Homo sapiens: one gene and its partner. The protein of the gene in region 1 purifies or fractionates together with the protein of each later gene. This does not show direct contact. Each region holds a gene or a part of one and is shown in the gene's direction. Other genes may lie near its edges. The genes, in order: SPECC1 and KSR2.

Region 1 (3,822 bases):
AAAAAAGAAAGTGGCTGGGCACGGTGGCTCACGCCTGTCATCCTAGCACTTGGGAGGCCAAGGCGGGGAGATCACCTGAGGTCAGGAGATCGAGACCAGCCTGGCCAACATGGTGAAACCCCATCTCTACTAAAAAAAAAAAAACAAAAAAACGAAATACAGTAAATTAGCCGAGCATGGTGGCTCGCGCCTGTAGTTCCAGCTATTCGGGATGCTGAGGCAGGAGAATCACTTAAACTTTGGAGGCAGAGGTTGCAGTGAGCTGAGGTCGCACATTGCATTCCAGCCTGGGCAACAAGAGCAAAACTCCATCTCAAAAAAATAAAAAAAGAAAGAAAAAGTCAGCCTTAATTTAGTGATGTTATTAAGAATAACAAATGCCAGTGTGATGATCAGTCCTGGACTCTCAGGTTTGCCTGTTCTGACTAGAGTTATGGTGAAACTTTAGTTATCTTCCAGTTTTTAATACGGTCCTTGCTGCAATGACTTTATTCTAGAGAACTAGCATTACTAAAACATTTTAGTGCTTAGTGGTTTTTAATACTTATTTCACAAGAATAATTAAATAAGTCTTTTCCTCGTTGAGTGTGTAGTATGATGCAGGTTAGGTATCTGTGACACCTATAAGTAAGGCTGACCCATGAACAACACTAGCTTGAACTGTGTGGGTCCATTTATATGGAGACTTAAAAAAAATAAATACATTGGAAAATTATTTGGAGAGTTGCAACAGTTTGAAAAAAATTCAGATGAACTGGGTAGTCTAGAAATATGAAAACAATTGAGAAAAAGTTACATATGTCATGAATGCATAAAATACATGTAGATACTAATAATCAGTTTTATCATTTACTACCATAAAATATACACAAATCTATTATAAAAAGTTAAAATTTGTCTAAACTTATGCACACACAGACTGTACATGGTGCTATTCATAGTTGAGAGAAATGTAAACAAATATAAAGATGCAGTATTATAACTGCATACAATTAACTGTAGTACATACAGTACTCCTGTAACAATTCTATAGCCACTTCCTGATGTTGTTGCAGTGCGCTCAAGCATTGGGGGTAGCTGCTTGGAAGGTACTGTGATGCTAATCATCTCTGTGGGAGCAGTTCCTCTCTCCAGTACACCTCAGATCGCAGTAAAAAGTGACCTCTTGAGATTCTTGAGTATGTTTTGTTGTGTTTAGTGCAGTACCACAAACCTTGAATAACACTATGGGACCCATACAAAGTGCCACTAGTGATGCTGGCAGTGCTCCCTAGAAGCCAATAAAACCCCTGACAGCATTGAATTGCTTGCTAGATTGAGGAATGGTTGCCTGTCGCTTCAGACAGATGATTCATTTTGCAAACAGACCATGTAAACTTATGGTATTGATAAATACAGTATGGTACTGCAAATGTATTTCCTCTTCCTTATGGTTTTCTGAATAACATTTTCTTTTTTCTATCTCATTTTATCTTAAGAATACAGTATATAATACATATAACACAAAGTGTGTGTTAACTGTTTATGTTTTCAGTCAGGCTTCCGGTCAACAATAGGCTATTAGTAGTTAAGTTTCTGGGGAGCCAAAAGTTATACACAGAGTTTTGACTGCATGAAAGGTTGGCACCCCTAACCTCCAAGTTGTTCAGGGGTCAACTATATTAAAAGTCTATGATATACTCTTGGCTTTCCAGAAACTTAATTTGAAGAAGTTAATTTAAAAACCATAGTTTTCTATATATTAATTTGACAGTTCAGCCTTTATTAGGTCAAAGTTTCAAAAGAGCTCAGCTGTTAGATGTTTAGTAATGAATGCCATCAGCCTTTATGTCATCAGGATTCAGGATGTTTAGGTGTGTGTTTGCTCAGGGCTCAGAAATAGTCTTGGTGGTGGGTTTACAGCTGCCCATCTTGTTAGGTGTGGAACCTGCCTTAGCGCTGGGGCTGCTGCCAGTCTATGGGAACATTCCCTCCCGTGCCCTTCCTACACTGTAGAGGCCTACAGGTTGATGACCACTTCTGGGACCCTTCATTACACCTCTCACTGAAAGCATGTAGAGTTGTGTAAGTGACAGCAGCCAGCCTTGACTCATCAAATAGTCTTTCAGTTTGTAAAAAAAAAAAAAAAAAAGTCCAGGATTTTATTTTACACTGTAACATCTGAGGTGGGTTTCAATTCTAGAGCACAATGGAGACTGATGTCTGGGTTTCACCCCTAGAATTGTTTTTACATTGTCTGTGATATAGTACAGATGAAAATAAAAGAGAATTATTTACACCTTACATTTGCTGTTACAAGTATTCTGTATTATGTCTATATCATGTCAAGTAACATAGGTATGTTCTTATTTCATTTATTCTTGTTTCTCCATGTACACAAATGAGTACATCATTTCCACTTACGGCAAAAGTGATATGTCATTGTATCAGATCCATCTCTCAGTATTATCTGTATCTTCTGATTTCTTAATCAAATTTATGCTGTCAAAATATGTTAATGATGTTTTTTAAAGTGTTTATTGAGAAATTCACAAAGAACTTGTATTTTGTCAAAAGGCCATTGTTTTTGTTGCCAACATTATCAGTGCAGATGTACTAAATTGCAAGTTACAGAAAACCCAGCTCAAGGTGACTTATAGGAAGGGTATTTACTGGCTTGCCTAACTGAAAGGCCAGCTATAGGCCAAACTTCAGGGTTGATTTGATTTAGCAACTTAACAATGCTATTGAGAGTTTAGTTTCCTTCTTCCTTCTCTGCCATCTGCATTCCCACCTTCCTCTTGAAAGGGCAGGGTGGTTGCCAGCCATTCCCACACCTACACATTTTCTCACTCTGGTCCCGTGGTGTTTAATAGCTTGCCCAGAAAACCTTCCCTTTGTCACATTGATCTTAATTGAGTTGTGTGCCCATGCGTGAACCAGCAACTGGCTGGGGATGGGGTCATCCTGAGTAGCTCAGGCTTGGAGTCAGCCTCACCCAAAGTATAGGGCTGTGGGGAGGAAGCACAGAAACCACAGTCAGAACTGGGTAATTAGCTAGAGGAGGAGGAAATGGATGAAGAGCGACAGCCACTGTCCACTGTGCCATGTGATTTACAGTCATTTGGGTTTTGTTTATAAGAATGCTTGCTTTATTTTTTCATTTTTTTCTTCTTCTGTCTTTAAGGGGCCTTTACAACAACTAAACGGACAGGCATTCCAGCCCCACGGGAATTTTCAGTAACTGTCTCAAGAGAGAGGTCTGTGCCACGTGGTCCCTCCAACCCCAGGAAATCAGTGTCCAGTCCAACTTCTTCCAACACTCCCACTCCTACGAAACACCTGAGGACCCCTTCCACAAAGCCCAAGCAAGAGAATGAAGGTGGAGAAAAGGCTGCGCTTGAGTCCCAAGTTCGGGAACTTTTGGCAGAAGCCAAAGCAAAAGATAGTGAAATTAACAGGCTTCGAAGTGAACTAAAGAAATACAAAGAGAAAAGGACTCTGAACGCTGAGGGGACTGATGCTTTGGGCCCAAATGTCGATGGAACATCAGTCTCCCCAGGTGACACGGAACCTATGATAAGAGCTCTTGAGGAGAAGAACAAGAACTTTCAGAAAGAGCTTTCCGATCTAGAGGAAGAAAACCGGGTCCTGAAGGAGAAACTGATCTATCTTGAGCACTCCCCAAATTCAGAAGGGGCAGCAAGTCACACTGGCGACAGCAGCTGCCCAACATCCATAACTCAAGAGTCAAGCTTCGGAAGCCCAACTGGAAATCAGATGTCCAGTGACATTGATGAGTATAAAAAAAACATACATGGAAATGCATTACGGACATCAGGC
Region 2 (3,822 bases), on another chromosome or scaffold:
GGATGGGGATGTGCCGCAGTGGGCATTGCCTTCTTTCTGCCTAGTGGTTTTCCTTTTAAACTGGGGGGATGGAGGCACTGGTAGGATGGCTATGGGGGAGTTGCAGTTGTAGGAAATGCATCTGTTTTCAGTTCCCTTGTCCCAGTATGCTACAGAGCATGCAACCACTTTCATCCATCTTGCCCAGGGAATGCTCTTGAGCAATTATTCCAATTTGTATTTCCCAGATTTGCAGGGTTAGGGAGGGCCCCTGCAGAGGGGCTGGTAACTTAGGGTCCAGCCAAGTCCAGCCAACGCTAACATTTGGGTCCACGGAATTTTCTAATTTTGTATATCAAAACCATATGAGGGTGCTTGTTAAAATGCAGATTCTTAGCCTCTAACCCTAGAGATTCTAGTTTAGCTGGGATTAGCAAGAGGGTCAAGGAATCTGCGTTTAATAAACAGTCCAGGTATTTCTGATACATGTTTTCAAATGGACACTTTGAGATGCTAAACCATTAGGAGAAAGATGTGATATTTCAGCTCTTTAATGGTGAAAACTCACTGCTTGCTAACACTAATGCAAGTAATAAATTGAATAGATGATCCCTGAACAGTGCTGTGATAATGAACAGCACTTAATAGCATGTATACACTTCTGTAGAAACAAAAATATGCAAGGTGGACTTGGCCTTCAGGAAGCATACTTCATGATATAATAATGTGTATGTGAAATAATGATAAAGTCTAAGTGGTAAATAATATGGGGGACAATGTGTGAGCCCATTAGGCATGTGTTCAGCTGCATGAAATGGAAAACCCAATCCTAGCAGTAAGGCAAATAATGGTTTCTCTTCATGTAACAAGAATTCTGGAGACATATAGCTGCTTCAGTTGGCTCAGTAGGTTAGTAATACCAGGGCTGATGTCTTTGGGAATTCTCATGGCTTTTCTCTTATGGTTGCAAGATGGTTCCTGCAGCTTCAGCGATTACATCTGAGTTCAAGGTAGGAAAGAGGAGGACCTGGTGAGTGTGAAGGAATAAAGGGTTCCCCAGGACATCTCTTCCTCCTCACCTTGCAGATGATTTGATTATATCTTCTTGGCCAGAACTGAGTCCTAGCTGCAAGGGAGCCCGGGAAGTGGGGAAGTGGGACCACCACCAGGATCGGCTTAGATGGATCATGATCCATTGCCTGAAATGACATGTTGCCACTCCATGCAAAATCAGGGCTCTGCTAGTGTGGAAGGAGGCATAGGTAGATATTAAGTAAGTGGACAGCCAGCGATGGCAGCCATGGCACATAGTCAGAAGATATTTTGGTGGAAAAGAAAGTTCATGAACGTTGAGTCAGACTGATATAGTTGTAAATTCTAGCTTGTCTTTTTACTTTATCTTGGGCTAGTGATTTAAGTTTTCTGATTTATAGTTTTAAGTTTTTGGCAAAACAGCAATAATTAAATAATATTCCCTACTTCAGAGGATGGTTATAAGGATTGAAAGAGATAACGTTTTCAAGGGTCTAGCACTATCTGGAACAGAGTGGCTGCAGGTGCTAAATGAATGACAGCTGTGATGATGATAATGATTGGCATTACATGGTGTTGACTAGATGGCATGGAAGGGAGCAGTTCAGATTGGACAGAGAGAAGGAGGAGCTTGAGTAGCATTTCCAAAGTATGTTCTGTAGAACCCTAAATCTGTGGGATGTTAGCGTTTTTAATTCTTTCAACAAATGCTGACATCCAGGCACTGTACTTAATGCTGGTAGTCAATAAGTGTTCTGTGGACAAAACAAATTCTGTGGTTAATAAGTTTGGGAAGGGTTGAGTTAAGCAAAGGGAAACAGGCATCTTTACTGCAGGACTTTTCTCAGAGCCTTTAATATGCTACCTATGTGTATTAGGCCTCCAAGAGAGGATAGAACGGAGTCTCGCTCTTGTCACCCAGGCTGGAGTGCAGTGGCGCAATCTCAGCTCACTCTGCCTCCTGGGTTCCAGTGATTCTCTTGCCTCAGCCTCCCAAATAGCTGGGATTACAGATGCCCGCCACCATGCCCTGGTAATTTTTGTGTTTTTAGTAGAGACGAGCTTTTGCCATGATGGCCAGTCTGGTCTTGAACTCCTGACCTCAGATGATCTGCCCGCCTCGGCCTCCCAAAGTGCAGGCGTGAGCCACTGCACCCGGCCCAAGGATTTCTCCTGGGATTTTTGTTCCATAGGATACACCTGGGAAAACATTTGGCAAAGCAGGGAAACCTTCTTGGTTGGGGAGATGGGGATTTGGAGTGAAGGATGAGGAGGGTTTAGATTGCAGCAAAAGGGGAGAGCATGCTGGACAAGAACAACAAACCAGATGAAGGTATTTGAATGCCTTCATGGGGCAGCCTAGAGACCATTTTGCCCAGAATGGAGGGTACCTGGTAGCCTGTCATAGGAAATGAATTTAGGCCACTAACTTCTGGGATCCAACTAAAGATTAGAGAGTCAGACCAACAACGTTTCATCCCTTTGTGGAAGGAGATAGAAGTCTTCAAAGGTTTTGGAATGCATACAATAGAAAAGTATAAGCTTTTTTGTTTTGTTTTTTTTGAGGCAGGGTCTCACTCTGTAACTCAGGCTGGAGTGCAGTGGCACGATCATGGCTTACTGCAGCCTTGACCTCCAGGGCTCAAGAGATCCTCCTGCCTCAGCCTCTTGAGTAGCTGGGACTACAGGTATGCACCACCACGCTTGGCTAATTTTTTGTATTTTTTAAATAGAGACAAGGTATTGCTATGTTGCTCCAGCTGATCTTGAACTCCTGGGCTCAAGTGATTCGCCTGCCTTGGATGGCAGCCTACGGCAGGGGCTGGCAAACTTTTTCTGGAAAGGGACAGATAGTAAAGAGTTTAGGCTTTGTGGACCCTGCAATTTTTATCAAAGCTACTCGACTCTGTGCTGTAGCATGTAGCAGCCATGGGCAGTACATACATGAATGGGTGGGGCAGTTTTCTTTTTATTTTGAGACAGGGTCTCGCTCCGTTGCTCAGGCTGGAGTGCAGTGGCGTGATCTCGGCTCATTGCAACCTCCGCTTCCCAGTTTCAAGTGATTCTCCTGTCTCGGCCTCCTGAGTAGCTGGGATTACAAGCCTGCACCATCACGCCTGGCTAATTTTTGTATTTTTAGTAGAGACAGGGTTTCAGACCAGCCTATTGGCCAGGCTGGTCTCAAACTCCCGACCTCCAGTGATCCGCCCACCTCAGCCTCCCAAAGTGCTGGGATTATAGGCGTGAGCCATCAAGCCGGGCCTGGTGGGGCAGTTTTCTAATAAAACTTTATTTGTGGACCCTGAAACTTGAAATTGATATACTTTTTGCATGTCATGAATATTTTTCTTTTGATTTTTTTTTTGATGTTTATAGTTGTACAAACTGTAGTTTCTGGGCCTTACAAAAACAGGTGATGGTGGCCAGGCACAGTGGCTCACGCCTGTAATCCCAGCACTTTGGGAGGCTGAGGTGAGTGGATCACTTGAGGTCAGGAGTTTGAGACCAGCCTGGCCAACATGGCGAAACCCCGTCTCTACTAAAAATACAAAAATTAGTGGGGCATGGCAGCGGGTACCTGTAATCCCAACTACTCGGGAGGCTAAGGCAGGAGAATCACTTGAACCTGGGAGGTGGAGGTTGCAGTGAACCAAGATGGCACCATTGCACTCCAGCCTGGGTGACAGAGGGAGACTACATCTCAAAAAAAAAAAAACCCAAAAAACAAAACAAAACAAAACCCAGGCGATGGGTCATATTGGGCCCATGGGCTGTAGCTTGCTAATCCCTAGGCTGTAGGATAGATGAGAG

What was found.
Region 2: the proteins of SPECC1 (region 1) and KSR2 purify together in Homo sapiens (co-immunoprecipitation; one large-scale study listed by IntAct). This does not show direct contact.

The regions. Positions count from the first base shown.
Region 1 is NC_000017.11:20,201,167-20,204,988, forward strand, and holds part of SPECC1 (cytospin-B), read left to right. Parts: intron 1-3,166; coding exon 3,167-3,822.
Region 2 is NC_000012.12:117,962,355-117,966,176, reverse strand, and holds part of KSR2 (kinase suppressor of Ras 2), read left to right. Parts: intron 1-3,822. UniProt on the Homo sapiens protein: Location-regulated scaffold connecting MEK to RAF. Has very low protein kinase activity and can phosphorylate MAP2K1 at several Ser and Thr residues with very low efficiency (in vitro).